Linked DNA regions of Homo sapiens. The protein of the gene in region 1 interacts with the protein of each later gene in a biochemical or structural test. Each region holds a gene or a part of one and is shown on either strand. Other genes may lie near its edges.

The links. Proteins that work in one complex are often made in the same cells at the same time.
Region 2: of the proteins of MEP1A (region 1) and NTS, one has a biochemical effect on the other in vitro, tested with the Homo sapiens proteins (one study listed by BioGRID).

The regions. Positions count from the first base shown.
Region 1 is NC_000006.12:46,795,963-46,803,949, forward strand, and holds part of MEP1A (meprin A subunit alpha precursor), read left to right. Parts: intron 1-2,643; coding exon 2,644-2,684; intron 2,685-3,143; coding exon 3,144-3,219; intron 3,220-7,987.
Region 2 is NC_000012.12:85,868,764-85,877,418, reverse strand, and holds the start of NTS (neurotensin/neuromedin N preproprotein), read right to left. Parts: upstream 3,125-8,655; 5' UTR 3,016-3,124; coding exon 2,943-3,015; intron 780-2,942; coding exon 718-779; intron 1-717. UniProt on the Homo sapiens protein: Neurotensin may play an endocrine or paracrine role in the regulation of fat metabolism. It causes contraction of smooth muscle.

The DNA.
Region 1 (7,987 bases):
CATTTTGACAGACCCAAGTGGTTTCTATGCACATCAGAGTGTGAGTCAATCTGCCCCTGACTACTCTTCCCCTTCCTACTTGAGCTTTCCAGCCACCCTGACTGCACAGCTACTCCTCTAAGGAAGTGATTTTCGATGTGTTGTCCCCAAGCCAGCAGCATCGGCATCACCAGGAAACTTGTTAGGAATGAACATTCTCAGGCCTCACCCCAGACTTAATGGACCAGAAATCCAACGGTGGGGGCTCATCAACGGGTGTTGACCAAGCCTTCCAAGGGACTCTGATGCTCAAGTTTAGGACCACTGCCCTAAGACATCAAGGCTTTCCTGTCACAGGACCTTTCTATCTGGTGTTGCCTCTACCTCCCCTACTCTTCCTTCATTCCCTCACTCTATCATATTTCTGCTAAAATGCCACCTCCTGTGGGAGGCCCTGCCTGACCACTCTTTAATAAAATAGCAAACCTATCTCACCTCAGCACTCTTTCCCACTTTACCTTTCATTTGTTTCTTTTTTATTGTACTTTTCACCATTTGTCACACTTTACAGTTATTTGTTTATTTGTATGTCTCCTTCTTCCCCCAATCAAGAGAGTCATCTCCTTAAGGACTTGTTTTATTCTCTACTGTATCCCAGCATCTAGAAAAATGCTTAAGACACATTAGGCATTTAATAAGTGTATACTACATGAACAAATTGGGTAATGAATAGATTGAGGCTTGCTCTCACTGGATGTACACTTCTTTGGGAGGTTCTCCCTGCCCCCCATGACTCCATCCATTCTGACTGACCACTGGGGCCAAAGTCTGAGTGGGCTTGTTCACTTCACTCTGAAAGAGCTCCCTCAATCCCATTATAATCCAGGCCAGGTGTCAGGAAATACAGATTTTTGCTCAGGACAAACCTCAATGTAAGAATAGATGGACCAGAACAAAGTCCCTCTGTTTAAAAGATGATTCAAATCTGGGTCCTACTGACAGTGGGACAGTGATGTCATTACTGTTTGTGGTTAATCGTACTGCTACCATAAGAATAGGTCAGGGTTAAAGAGGTTAAGCAATCTAGGAAATGTGTGCATGAGGAAGGGAATGATACAGGGATAGCCCTAGTTAGTCACTGGCAAGTGAAATCATGATGCCTGCTAATACCTAACACCTCCTTGGTGTCCTATGCATAAACGGAGCTGGTTCCTGAATGAGCCACAGGCTTTGCCAAATGAGGTCTCTGTTGGCTCGTGAGACTGTGGTAATTAATCTCTGCCTTGGCTTCCCAGCCTGTAAATCAGGGCTGTCCTCAGAATGAAGTACAATCCAGTGATTCTGTCTGAAGTTGTTGCATTTTACAGAAAATGTTTCATGTCACATGAGAGTTATGATAAGTGATGCTCTTTTAATGCTTGAGAAATTTTCCTACAAAGATCTTCCCTTTTAAGAGTCTTGCTTACTGAAACAGGATGAGGCAAGGATTAAGCAATAACAGCAGTAGGAGAGTATATTCTGCTAAGCACCTGAGAACAGATGTTTGGAGATACGGTTTAGAATGGATCTATCCATATTCCCCTGGTCTTCCTCATGATGTGGGCAGCACCTTGAGCTTGGTTTTGGAGGGTATCATCGTTTTTTCATGGGAAAGAGCAAAACACACTCATTTACTTTGGGACAAGAGGCAGAATGGTACACTGGTAGAAAGAGCCCTGGATGGAAAGGCAGGAGTTTTGATGCTCACTTGGCCACTTGATTACATAGTACATCACTTCATGTCTCTGGACTCTATTTCTTTCTCCATTTCTCTCAATAGTCTTTCTTTCTTTTTCTTTCTTTCTTTCTTTCTCTTTCTTTCTTTCTTTCTTTCTTTCTTTCTTTCTTTCTTTCTTTCTCTCTCTCTTTCTTTCTTTCTTACTTTCTACCTTTCCTTCCTTCCTTCCTTCCTTCCTTCCTTCCTTCCTTCCTTCCTTCCTTCCTTCCTTCTTTCCTTCCTTCCTTCCTTCCTTCCTTCCTTTTTTCTTCCTCTTTCTTTTTTTGTGAGACAGAGTCTGGCTCTGTCACCCAGGCTGGAGTGCAGTGGCATGATCTTGGCTCACTGTAACCTCTGCGTCCTGGGTTCAAGCAATTCTCCTGCCTCAGCCTCCCGAGTACCTGGGACTACAGGTGCACGCCACCATGCCCAGCTAATTTTTGTACTTTTAGTAGAGACAGGGTTTTACCATGTTGGCCAGGCTGGTCTTGAACTCCTGACCCCAGGTGATTCATCCACCTTGGCCTCCCAAAGTGCTGGGATTACAGGCATGAGCCACAACGCCCAGCCATTTTCTAAATAGTTTTCATCCTCCTTATCAGTGCTGCATCGAATCCCTTTTTTATAATCAGTGATCAGTAAAATCCCTTCTAACTTATGTCTTACTTCTAAGATTCTTAGACAAGATTTCTTGTCCCAAAATTGAAAACAGAGGCTATGACAATATGTGATACTCATCGGCCATTCACATTTGCTTAACTGGAATTTTTGCATTGTTTCAAAAAGTTTTGCCACATAAAGATTAATATTCAAAGATTTATAATGGCAAATACTAATTTTATTACGAAAGATGCCTTTTAATAATGTTCACTCAAATATTCTTTTTTTAAAAAAAATTCCACTTCCAGCTGCAGGCTTGGACCTCTTTCAAGGGGACATCCTCTTGCAGGTGAGTACCTGTCAATGATGCAATAAGTTTCTCAGGACAGGCAGTACCACTGGGTGTGAGTCTCTGCTCTGCGGCCAGCCCTGGGATGGGCACTGTGAAGGAGATGAGAGAAATCTCATCTATAATCTGTTCCAGTGAGGAGTTCCACTGTAGTTCCTAAGGACAAAAACAGAGGGAAAATAAGTAAACAGCACAAAAGGGTCTAAAATGATTAAATGGCTTATCTATCCAGTTTTCTTGGGATTGCAGGCCCCCTTTATTTTGTTCTTAATAATTTCTCTGATTTTTCCAAATTATCTCTCAAGGACTTCTATTGCTTTCATAATCAAAAGACAAATTGCCACTAAACTGTTTGAGTTGTGTGATAGACTGTTTGCTCTGTGAGAGTTTAGTGAAGGAGGAGGTCAAGGTGACCTTGAGGACTAGGCTTCCCACTCACCTTTACCTTTGTTTTCACAGAAATCCAGAAATGGCCTGAGAGACCCAAACACCAGGTGGACGTTCCCCATTCCTTACATCTTGGCTGATAATTTGGGTAATATTAATTGTTCTTAATTAGGAAGTTTCAGTTTAACTCTCTCTCTCCTCTCAGCCTGTCCATGGGCTTCACATTGGGAGTAACCACCACGATCTAAGAGAGTTTTCAAGTCCTGATGCATCTTTATCTAATGGGGAGAAAGACATAACATTACATCAAAAGCATTGCTGCTTAACCAGTCTGAGATACACAGAATCCAAGAATAACTTTTAAAATGCAACACACATTAAAGTATTAGTATAACCAGGAGAACATAAAAGAGCAAAACCTAATGAAATATAATTTGCATCAGAACAAGGAAAAGTTTGCACTTTGTTTAGGTGAATCTAAATGTAGTGTGAGGATACTATTTTCAGCATATTGATTTCTTCTCTTTTTCTTACAAGAGAAACATGCCACACTTTGAGAAATAGGAAAGTCCATATTTCACATGTTCACAATCCTTTTTTCTTGGTGTTATTAATGTCTACTCTTTTCTCTCTCTTAAGAAAAAGATCTGAATATGTTACATTTTACTCATTGTTAGAAATAATGACTAGTAGAATGACTTCCCTGCCTTTTAGCTAAGGTTGCATATAGAACTAGCAACTGGTAGAAATAAGTAAATATTAGAAGCCACATGTAGGCACTGGCTGACCCTCAAGCAGTTGACTGACAGCTGAGCAGCCATGATGACTCAATGTCTGCAAGGCCCCTCCTGCTTAGACAGATGAACAAGATTAGAGTGAAGAAGGGAAGCCAGGACAGGGTTGCTTAGTCTTGTTGGGCTGCTAGGCTGCTCCTACTCTCAGGAGATGTAGATTATGTTTCAGTATTTTCCATCCTCTTTATCAGTGCTGCCTCGAATCCCTGTTTATGGAGAACAGCTAGATATAAACAAATGTTATTGTTCACAGCTATTAGTTGGAAAATTGAGTTGTTTTCTCCAGTGTTTGCCTTGCAAATTCACGGAACATCAATACTTAATGGAACATGATTTAAGAAACACCAACTTTAAAAGGGGTTCTTTCCCATTACAATTTGTTTTATCCTGGTTGTCACATCTGCACCACCCTATTATGTGCCAGGCTCTGTGCCTTCATCTGATATTTTATGTAACCTTTACCATGCCTCTGTAAGGTGTAAGGTAGTGCTTCTCAGACTTTAATGTGCATAGGACTCAGATGAGGATCCTGTTAACCTACAGAGTAGGTCAGCGTTGGTGTGTGAGATGTTGCATGTCCAACGGTCCTCTAGTGATGCTGATGCTATTGGTCCCCACGCAGACCACAGCTTAAGTAGTAAGGTCTCTCTAGTTGCAAGATAGGTAAGAAATTATATTTGAGAGTGATTTGAGACAAGTGAACTGACATAAGATAAAGGTATTAAGGATACAGCAGTATTTCTCAAGCAATACCACGTGAAGGTCACCTTTAGTGTTAAAGTTCAGATGCCCAGACCCAGACCACTGTGAAAGCAAACTTTCTAACTAGAGTTGAATATTTGTATAGAATTGTTTTATTCAAGTTAAATTTACATAGAGTGAAATACACAAATCAGTATATAAGGCTTTTGACAAACACATATACCTATATAATGCACACTTCCATCATTCCATAAAGTTCCTTTCTAGGCAGTTCCCATCCCCACTCCTTAAGAGACAACCACCATTCTGATTTTCCCCTATGTATTAGTTTTGCCTGATTTACAACTGATTTACAGATAAATGAACTCATATACCATAGTATTTGTTTTATAAATACTATGTGTCTGGCTTCTTTGACTTATGTTTTTTAAGTTCTTCCATATTGTTGTAGATCAACAGTAAATTCTTTTTTTAAACTACTCAGTAATATTTCTTTGTAATACTATACTGTAAATTACTGTCCATTTTTCTGTTGGGGCTAGTATGAAGAAAACTGTTATGATAATTCTTATACAAGTTTATGTGAATACATTTTTTATTTATCTTTGGTAAATGCCTAGGAATATAATTGCTTGGTCATATGGATAACTATGTAAGAAAACGCCAAACAGTTTTCCAAAGTGGCTGTGCCATTGTACACTCCTCCTGAAAATATATGAGTGTTTCATTTGCTCCACATCCTCGCTAATATTGATAGCATTAATCTTTGTAGTTATAGCCATTTTAGTAGTTGTAAAATGGTATCTCCCTACGATTTTAATTTGCATTTCCCTAATGATTAGTGATATTTAGCACATTTTAGTATGCTACTGGCTATTTTTGTATCTTCTTTTACGAGGGTCTGTCCAACTCCTTCATGAGTTTTAAAAATTATATTGTTTGTCTTTTTATTATTTGTAGGATTTTATATATTATGGCTAAAGCCCTTTTTCAGATATATGTATTATAAATATTTTCTGTTAGTCTGTTACTTACCTATTTGTTTTTGTTTTTCAAGCAGTGAATTTTGAAATGCAAAAGCTTTAAATGCTGATAAAGTGTGATTTATCAATTTTTTAACTTATGGTTTGTGTTTTTATATTCTAAGAAATATGTGCTTAAACCAAGTCACAAAGATATATTCCAATATTTTTTGAAGTTGTATGGTTTCAATTTTTGTCTATAATTGATTGCAAACTAATTTTGTGTACAACAGGATGAAGAGATTGAGACTGATTGGTTGGTATTTATTAGCCCAGTTGTTCCAGCAACATTTGCTATAAAATTTTGCTTTCCTCATTAAGTACTCTTCGCAAGAGTCTCGTTTGCCAAGTTTGCCAAGACTCCTCATTTCTTGATCTGGTATCTCTGTTTTCCTATCTTATTCTACTTGTTTATCATCATGTCAAAAATCACTATGTTGATTACTCTAGCTTCACAGTTAACCTTGAATTGAGTGTTCCAGCTTTGCTCTCCAATTTCAAGACTGTTTAGCCTACTCCAGACCTTTTGCATTTTCATGTATATTTTACAATCAATTTCTCTAAAAAGCCTGCTGGGATTTTGATAGGAATGTGTTGATTCTGTACATAAATTTGTAGAAAACTAATTTCTTAAAAATATTGAGTCCTATAATCCATAAACATGGTACATCAGTCCATTTATTTCAGTCTTCTTTAATTTATCTAATCCGTGTTTTATAAATTTCAGTGTAGAGACCTTGTGTGTCTTTGGTAAATTCATTTCTAAGCATTTTATATTTTTGATGCTATTAAAATGAAATTTAAAAAATTTTACTACATAATGTTTTCTGCTAATATATAAAAATACAATGGATTTTTATATATTGATTTTGTATTCTGTTACCTTGCTAAATTTACTCATTAATTTTAATTGTTGATTTGTAGATTTTTTTAGGACTTTTAGTAAAAATTCTTCTTGCCTTTTAATATAGACAGTGTTACTGGTTCCTTTCCAATTTTTACACCATATATTGCTTTTTCTTGTCTTATTGTTCTGGCTAGGACCTTCATTACCATGTTGAATAGAAGTGGTAAGAGTGGACATCTTTGCCTCATTGGCTTGTTTAGTGGTAGTATTCAATACTTCATTCATGTGGGACACTGTAGGTTTTCCACAGATGCCCTTTGTCAGATGGTATGTTTTCATCATGAATAGTTGTTACAGTGTATCAAATGCTTTTCCTGCAACAATTAAGTATAATTTTTATTCCTTATTGTGTAATATGGTAATAACATCAAATTTGAATGCTAAATCAACTTTGCATTTCTCAGATGAGCCCTACTTGGTTATGATGTATTATCCTTTTCATATTTTGCTGGATTCCTAATATTTTGTTATACATTTTTGTGTTTATATTCATAAATAGTATAAGTTTCTAATTTACCTTTTTGTAATATCTTTATTAGGCTTTAGTAATAAAGTTATGTAGCTCTCAAAACCATCTTGAAAATTTTTCCTCTTCTTTTATCTTTTGAATAAGTTTGTGTATGATCAAAATTTTTTCTTTCTTAAATGTTGGTAAAAATCACCAATAAAATAAATAATAAATTTGTTTGTTGGTAAAATTCACCGATAAAATAAAATAACCAAGTAATGGAATTTTCTTTGTGGGATAGTATTTTTATAATGAATTCGATTCATTTAATAATTATAGAATTATTCTTATTTTCTATTATGCTGCTTTTATTAAATTGTATTTTTCAGTAATAAAAAATTAAGATTATCTTAATAGATGCAGAAAAAGCATTTGACAAAATTCAACAACTATTTCAACTAAGTTGTCAAAATAGTGGCATAATATCTCATTATCTTTATAATGTCTGTAGAATCTTTAGTGATAGTCCTATTTCACTTTTGATATTGGCAATTTGTGTTTTCCCTCTTTTTTTCTTGACATGTCCTGCCAGGGACTTATTGATTTTATTAATATTTTTACAGAATTGACTTTTGATTTGTTAATTTTCTCTTGCTTCTCTGCTTTATATTTAGTTGCTTTCTGTTACCTTTATTATTTCCTTTCTCCTACTTATTTCAGGTTTAGTTTACTCTTCTTTTTTGACATTCTTAAGATGAAAATTCATATCACTTATTTTAAACCTTCATTTTTTCTAATGTAATATATTCTACAACATGGCTACTAAAGCTATAAATTTTATCTGAAGCACTGCTTTACTGCCTTCTTCAAATTTTGATATGGTGTATGCTTATTAAAATTTAGTTTATTAATAGATACTTCATAATTTATCTTGTGAATATTTTCATCCATGGATGGGATAAAAGTATGTTTACATTTTTAAAAATATTGTCCTTAGCGTTAATATTATGCAAGCATTTTACAATAGTATAATTCCATTTATA
Region 2 (8,655 bases), on another chromosome or scaffold:
AAAAAAAAAAAAAAAAAGAACATGTAAAAATAACATGTTTGTTATAGGGAGAATTTAAATCCAGACATACAATGAAGAGTACAGTTTAGTAATTCCTAAATACATTGTAGAACGGTAAATGTCTAGAAGATTACGAACTGCAATCCCTGCATTTAAAAACAAGGAAACACAGGTAAGCAAGGTGAACTAATCCACTTGCTAAAGATAAAATATTTAATAAGTCACTGTTTCAGGATTAGATCTCAATGCTCCTGCTTACCAGTCCATTGCTATCCCCTCTATACTACATTTCTTTTGCAGGTTGTCATGAACTTTTATTTCTAATTTAGGAACACCTTTTTATTTCCCCCAATATAATAAAAAAGGCAAAGAGCTCACTTTGTTTTCATTTAACTTGAGACCAATATACCTTTCATCATACCCAATGTAAAAGGCATGGAAGCAAGTTCCTTTAAAAACATTTACAGGCAAGTAAATATGTGTGGCAATTAATTAAAATTGCAACATGCTGATTGATAGAATTATAATTTCTTTGCCTGTCATATCAACACCTTTAACTTCTTTTAACTAAAAGAAATTTTTTTTTTCAAAAAGGAAATGCCTCTCAAGGAACTTTTCAATCTTGATGAGAAGTTATTACTATGGGAAAAGGATACCATGTTTATAATGAAAGTTCATATGTTCTTCAACTCAGGGTTAAAGAAAAGAAAAAGTTACCTTTGATGTATGCATATTGGTCAAGAAATCTGCTTCTAATGCTTTCATTTCCTCTTCTGAATCTGAGTAAAATCAAAATCAGGTTTACTATAATTACATATCATATAATTATATCATAATCTACAGATTTTAGGTTAATCTAAAAAAAAATCTTAGAGGTTAGTGTCTTTCTTATGTATTTTCTTAAAAATAGTAATCCTAAAAAACAAATTATAGTTATACTTTAGCATAATAGGAAGCTAAAATAGTAGAAGCACTTCTAAGAAAATAAGCATATGATTATTTTTCAGACAGCTATTGATCACTGGGAGTTGTTTAATCTTTGAATTTCAGGCTTTAAAAATGTGATTACATTGTATAACACATATTTTACCAAATATGCTAGAGTAGCTTATTTCTTACCAGCCACAGTTTACATATATAGAAAATATGCATATTAACATTTAAAAACACAACATAATGAAGACTATACAAGAGACTTTTTCAAGACAAAACCAAAGGGAATTGCTTACTGATAATTTTAGAATAATAAAGATACTGAGGTTTACTTAACTTGAGATGTTTTTTACAAAACACACGTTGAAAGAATTGTATTGTACTTTAAGAGAATTCAAAATTATGTATCCTCAATTTTTTCATAGGCATTTAAGGAAATTGTTTAAAGCAAAAGTGGAGCTGTTCAACAACACATGTACAACAGCATTGAAAATGGATCTCTGGATTTTTAAAAAACTCTATCCAAGTTTCTGTTAATGAATATTTTACAGAGAAGGAAAATTTGGAAAATACTATACAATAATAAAAATAAAGTTAAAAATGACTCTATCTTCCTTGTACTACACACTCAGTAAAAAGAAATGCCACAATTGGAGAACCCATTGGCTTAATTTTACCTAGAACCTAAATTATACAAGAGATCTTTTCTCACTATTTGTTAGAGACATAATCTGTTTTAGGAATTTATGAACAATGTATACCAAAATCCTTATAACTATTGCATTATTACAACAAGTAGTTTCAAGTTAATAAACACAGTGCTTAATCAATAACCCAGTTTTTCTTCCAGAAGTATGTGAATCTTTAATCTCATATAACTTTCAGATAAAATCATAATTATAGAAAAGTTTGTTTTTTCTCATAAGATTTAAAAAGTAGAAGCTGAAAGTTATGTTCTGATGATTAAAATAAATTTAAAATTTTGTATAAATCACATTTATATCTTCTTAGATTTTAATTTCATAATTTAAATCAAATGATAGCATGAGTTTGAGTTAAACATTTCCATGTCATATTTATGATACATAAAAGCACAGAACAGGTTAAATTATTTTTGCTGCATTTGCTTCCTAATGTGTTCTTTTCCCTTTGAAGTGTTCATTGTAATATTTCTTAAATATTAAGTAGAGCCTTTTGCAATGGTTGTAATATTTCATGTTATACCTTTCAATTTAAGTCTTATTTTCAAAGTGAGTTATTCGTAGATACTTAGGACTATATAACTTCTTTCAAACCACATGCAAAACACTCTAAAGTCAAATAATTTCCATCAATATAAGAATACCAATTTTCCAATTGTATTTTGTATTAACTTAAATGGCATGGAAAAAATGCCAAACAGTTATATTAATAGCACACTTATTAGACTATGCAAATTCTGTTCTCAAAAAGGATCTGGAATATTTTTGTATTTTTCTAGAAATAATTTTCTACAAATAATGCTTCATTTTTCACTAAGTATCAATTTTCACTTTATTTGTTATCTTAACACAAACAAGAAAATAATACGGGGACTATTACAAGGGCGTGAGGGCCACCGCTTCCTAAGAGAATGAATGAGGATGAGAGTAAAACATTTTGAATGGAATGGGATTTAATGATGGGTTTGCAGGTTGACAGCCACTGCCTCTGTATTTCTCATTAGATAATGATCAGCCTAATTGAAAGTTTTGTAGGGTTTTTTTCCCTCTAGTTGTTGAATTCCAAAGGAGGTCGTGCAGTGTTTCATTGAAATCCCTTTTATTGCTTTGCAGATTTTAAAAGAGAAAATACATCTCTCAGTAATCATAAAGGCAGAGAAAGAGATACTCAGTTTCTGTCACTAAAAGGTAAATCCTGAATAAAAGGGAGCAACTCTTCTCCCCAGATACATTAACATAAGTAGCAACACACTGCAAAAGAGAAAAAAGAAATCACTTCAGGGAGTTGTGAAATTCTGTTTTGCTTACCTGAGCACAGACTCCAGGAGCTGAAAGCCAGGAGTAGCATGCATACAAGCTGGATTTTCATTCCTGCCATCATCTTTCAGCCTTCTAACAAGCCAAGTCCGTAAAAGTCAGAAGCACACTGAAGGGGGCTCTCTCTAGCACTTCCTCTTTCCTTCAGCTGGCTTTGAAAGTGAGTGAACTATGAGAGGTGCTCTGGCCATTCCCCTATATATATAAGCAGGAGGATGATGTCATTGATTGTACAGACATTATCTTTGCAGGATGTGCCCTATCTTCACCTCCATCCCTCCCCTCTTTGCCCTGCTTTCTCCTCCCCTTTTCCTTTGTCCCCCCTGCTCTCCTCCCCCATTTCTGAACCTTGAGTGAAAGTGACGATCTTCCCTAATTGCTGCTGCTGCTGCTTTGGATTTCTGACGCACAGAAGGAGTCATTCAACTGCACTGACATACAGCATACATACAGCATACTGACAAAGAACCCCCAGTATCATCCTTTTCCCACTTCTCATTCCCCCACTCCAAAAGTTGTCATTTTGATTTTGTGAAACATGAGATCTGTTATTTCTAATTTTTAAGGAAAATCTCCAGGATGAATGCATGAAATCAGTGATTCCTTAGGCTTGGAAGTTCTTGAAGAGTTAGGGTGCTTCTCTGGTAATTCAAACTTCTGAGCAAATGTTTAGTGGTTCCAAAACTAATACAGGTTTTAAATAATCCATGCTGGAATAAGATGGAATAGAGACAGAGAATCAGTTATAAAAATTAAGCAATTAAGTTTAGAGAATAGAAAGAAAATCAATAAAAAGAAATAATAGATCCAGGGAATAAGATATTATTTCCTAACAAATAGAAAATATTTTATTGTAAGTAATGAGAGATGACTGAACTATGTGTGCTGACTTTTGGTTGAATGTATTAGAAAAACAATTTCATGTTTATAAAATCCAGCTCTAAATTACTTACATTCTAGCAGGTAAAAATTTGTGTTGTTGTATCACTGACTTTTTTTCTGTACATTATCTCTTTTTATGCCTATATTTTTCTGCTCTTTTTGAATTCATTCTTGATGCCATGTCTCACTCTTTGTATAATTCCCTTCTCAACAGTTTTTACTATTGCATCGGCTTTCTTTCCCTGTTATAATACTCTTTTCACCATAAAAAAAGAGATTGTACTTTTGGAAAGGAGACAATCCTAAATAACCACCATTCACCAAAGTCACTTTTCTATGATAGTCTTCATGTATTTCATGAGTTACACTGATACCCATTCTTTGTCTGAGTTCTCAAAAGAAAATTGTTCAAAATGCCTTTTAGAGTAAAACTTTCTTCTTGTAGTAAGCATTTCAAGATACATGGGGTAATTTGACAAGTCAGTGCTGTTAGAGATGTGAATATTTGAATGTAAAGTTGTCTGAGTCTTGTTTAATTTTTAAATAAATCAATCATGTAGTAACAGTTGAGAAAAAATAGGATTGGTTCCTATAGATAATTGATTTATATTATACAATCTATGAGTTTAACTTTTTCACCTTTACCCAAAACTTAAGCAAAGCGATTAAATCCAAACATTTAATAATTACTTAGAATAGCAAGGAGTCTTTCATATAATACCAGAAATTTAATAATAACTGATATATTTATTACTTTTAGTTTGTTTTCTGAACTTACATAAAACACAATATTGAACATACTCACATGGAGGAAGGTTTCTGTAAAGTATTTAGTTGACAAATGTGAAATACATACGTCTAGATGTTTTCTGCTTTCCTACCATTAGGGGGAGCAATGGAAGCTTGAAACACTTGGTTTTCACTTAACAGAGTCTCAGTGAGGATTTGTGCTTACTTTCCTGTTACTATCAGAGCATCTTTGTGACAGAATCCTCTTAAAGCCACTTTGATTAACAAATCGGGAAAATTATATATACTTTGCATGATAATTAAATTAGTTGTTTTCTCTGCTTTTGAATTGCAAATACAAAGAATGATCTTTTAAAATGTGTGATAGCAGTCTAATAGTAAAAAGGAAATGTGATTCTTATTTTCCTCAGATGATTTCTTCAATATGTTGACAAAATTGATCCCTAATTAATTAGAAAAAAGGGGGAGAAGAATTAATGGAAATTCATTTTAAATATATAACATGGATATTAGTTGTTAATGTGAAAATTGAGATATGTGATAAATATTCAAGAATAGGGGAAACATTAAGTTATGTCAAATAATTCAAATTCAAATAGATGCTATATGCTACTTTTCTTTTGGGGAAAAAAGATGTATAACTTTGGTAAAATTATGATGTAGATAAACTTTGACCTCTAATTGGTATTTTCTTTAATGTGTTAGGCTTTTTGTTTCTTGCTCTAATCTAATGCCTTCAAGCTACACATAAACCAATAAAACAATTTGTTGTAGGGATAAAGGTTAAGTATGTATTTTTCCACTTAAAAAGTACCCTACGAACTTCCTAAATGATGCCTTTAATGCAGGATTGTAGACACCTTGCTATGGAGATGGGTGAACTGTTTTTATTTTAAAGGCTTTTTACCCCAGATCCTTTTTCTTTTTTCTTTTTTTTTTTTTTTGAGATGGAGCTTCTCTCTGTCACCAGGCTGGAGTGCAGTGGTGTGATCTCGGCTCACTGCAGTCTCCACCTCCTGGGTTCAAGCAACTCTCCTGCCTCAGCCCCCCGAGTAGCTGGGACTACAGGCACACCACCAGGCCCAGCTAATTCTTGTATTTTTAGTAGAGACGGGGTTTCACCATGTTGGCCAGGATGGTCTCGATCTCTTGACCTCATGATCCGCCCACCTCGGCCTCCCAAAGTGCTGGGATTACAGGCGTGAGCCACCATGCCCGGCATACCTTAGATCCTTCTAAGGGTTACCTAGTTCTTAAAATATCTGATAAAGATTTTAAGCATTGTCCTTTAATAATATTCCTGTGTTGGCCTTCTTAAGTGGATGTTACCTGTTAGGTACCTGTTGATTACAACATCTCTAAAGTAGGTAGATTTCTAAGCTTGTACTGTTACTTATGTCAGACCTTTATTAGGTAATTGCTGAAAATAATCAACAGAGACACCTGAAGAATTGGCAGTTAGAAAGAGTGGTCTGTAAGCTTATTTTGTTTGGAGAAGGGCAAGCTCTGGAACCAACTGATCAAGGGTTGGTTTTTCAGTTCCTTATGGTTTTTTCCTATAGCTCTGGTGACTTTAATACCTCATTAACAGCTTCCAGGATTTTCCAATCTTTTGGTAACCTAAATACCTGAAACTTGGCCTGTTGTGTTTTTACAACCTGGAATCTCCCCTTCACCTTCCTATGATCATCCTGTATTTTATGGCTTAATCAACAAAAACATTTCCAAGTTTGAGTCCTGAAAGTAGTCTCGTCTACTTCTATTTTTCCTAGTTTTCTGTTAAATGCTCCGTAGTTTGTTTATACAGTTTATGGTAAACTGTAAACTGCTAGAAGGAGAACATTCTGACTTCTAAGGTTTATAATCCATAAGTGATCAATACATACTTACTAAATTAAATGAAAATACTGATTACGTTTAATTTCTTACATGCCCTTTCCATGTTTTAATTTTAAATGTTTCTTTCAGCCACACCTTTTAACACTCTTTTGTTATCATTAATCTTCATATTTTATGTGAGCTTTTATAGTCAGTTTTCTCAGCCTTTTCTCTCATCATCCTTTTCCTCTCTGACTGGAAATGTTAACTTTAAAAAAATCATTCAAGAAGATTGTCCTTGGATCATGTACAATCATCAGCTGAATGTTTAGATAAATTGTGAGTTTGCTCCATTTCTATAAATGAGTCTATCATTTGAAGCTGTAACTCTGATTCATCTGAACAAATAATGATGTCAAAGTCTGTGAACCCAATTGATTTTTCTGTTCAATTAAAGTATATTTTCTAGAAATACAGATGGATGTGTGCATGCATACACCCACATAGGATGTGTATAACCCAACCTTGGAGATTTAGGTAAATGTAAACAAACGTTCAGTTTCCCAATCTGCATGTAACCTTGCTTTGCCCATAATCCTTACAAATTCCTAGCTCATTTCCTTTCAGCTCTTCCTATCTCTGTTATTGCATCCATATAGGTAATTAACCTGGAAAAATTGATGACTGACTTCTGTAGTCAAAGCATATTTTGCAACTTAAACCGTAATTACAAAATACGGTTTGCTTGGGACTTACATGTTAATGAGTTACTGTATTTAACTAACCATGCTCCACATTGCAGCCATTGCTGACTTCACCTATAATCTTGCTTCTCGTGTCTAGGAAAAAATGTAAATACTCACAAAATCACCACCCATTATGTGTAATGCTCAGGTAGTTTTCCTTATAGGTCTCCCTTTTGAATAAGACCAAAATAAAAGTATTACAGAAAAAAATGTTCCTGACAAATTTCTTCTTTCATGTTTCTTAGTTTTATAAATTAGTGTAATTATCTAATGTAATAAATGAGACAAATTCTTATTATAAGAAAACTTTCTCTTTTCTTTTTTAATATTACAAAGTCTAAGAAAATTTCCATAGCACCTGCAATACCTGAAACAGAGCAGATGTACTTGAGCTACCGTCTATCAGGAGCAAATTCAGTGAAACACTTTTTTTCTTTTTCTCAAGAAGATATTACATGTTAAATTTGGAATGTAATGGTTTTATATTATTCATACTCCTTGGGTTTATGATTCTTTTTAAATTTACTGTGCTTTCCCAGTGAATCTGATAAGTCTTATGGTTTTGAATCCTATCTATTTCCTAATAACCTCCAAGTTTGTATCTCTGACTACTCAAATTGTATATGCAATCACCTCATTAGCAGCCCTACTTGGAGTTTCATTAGGCAGACTTATTGTCTAAAGTAAAACTTTTGATTCCTCCAAACATCTTTCTAATAATCTTCTGCCCCTCTAGAGTTTTTCATTTCAATTATTAGAACCATGATTTACTGAGTTGCACAGATCTAAAAACTAGAATCCATTTACATTGTTTCTCTCTCCCCTCCACTTCCAAGCTAGCAAAACCCCCTGGGGTGCAGGTCTGTTCCAAAATATATTTCAAATCTAACTACTTTTCCTTATGTCATTTTTGCCACCTAAGTCCAAGCCACCACCATCTTTCTCCTGCGCTGCCATAATAACCATTTGAGTAGTCTCCCTACAACCTTGATCCCTTTCAGCTTTCAAAAACTCCAGAAAAGTTTTTAAAAATGTAAATCTATTCCTGTCATTCTCTGCTTAAAACATTCTAAAGGTTTCCTCTTGTCATGCCTGATGATGGCCTATGCTACCTGAGTGGGTTTTGTCTTCCTCTCTATCATCATATTCCACCATTCTCCCCTTCTGTTCCTATGTTTCAAGCACATTGGTCTTCTGGCTTTTGTGCAACATGCTAAGCTTTTTTGTTAAAGATCTGCAATGAAAACTGTGATTACTGTTCATCAAATATTCATTCCCTTACTCCTCCCAGAGTGGATGAAATATACTTCCTCACTCTTTGACTTTAACTTAGGAAATGAGACTTGCTTTGGCCAGTGGGATGTTAGTAGACATAAGAAAAAGACAGACTTGATTTGTGCTTGACACATAGGGCTTTCCCTTTCTCTCTTCTGCCATTGCCATGAGAAACTCTTTTCTTTTCTCAGATGATCCCAAAATGAGGAGGGACATATGGAGCAAAGCTGCCC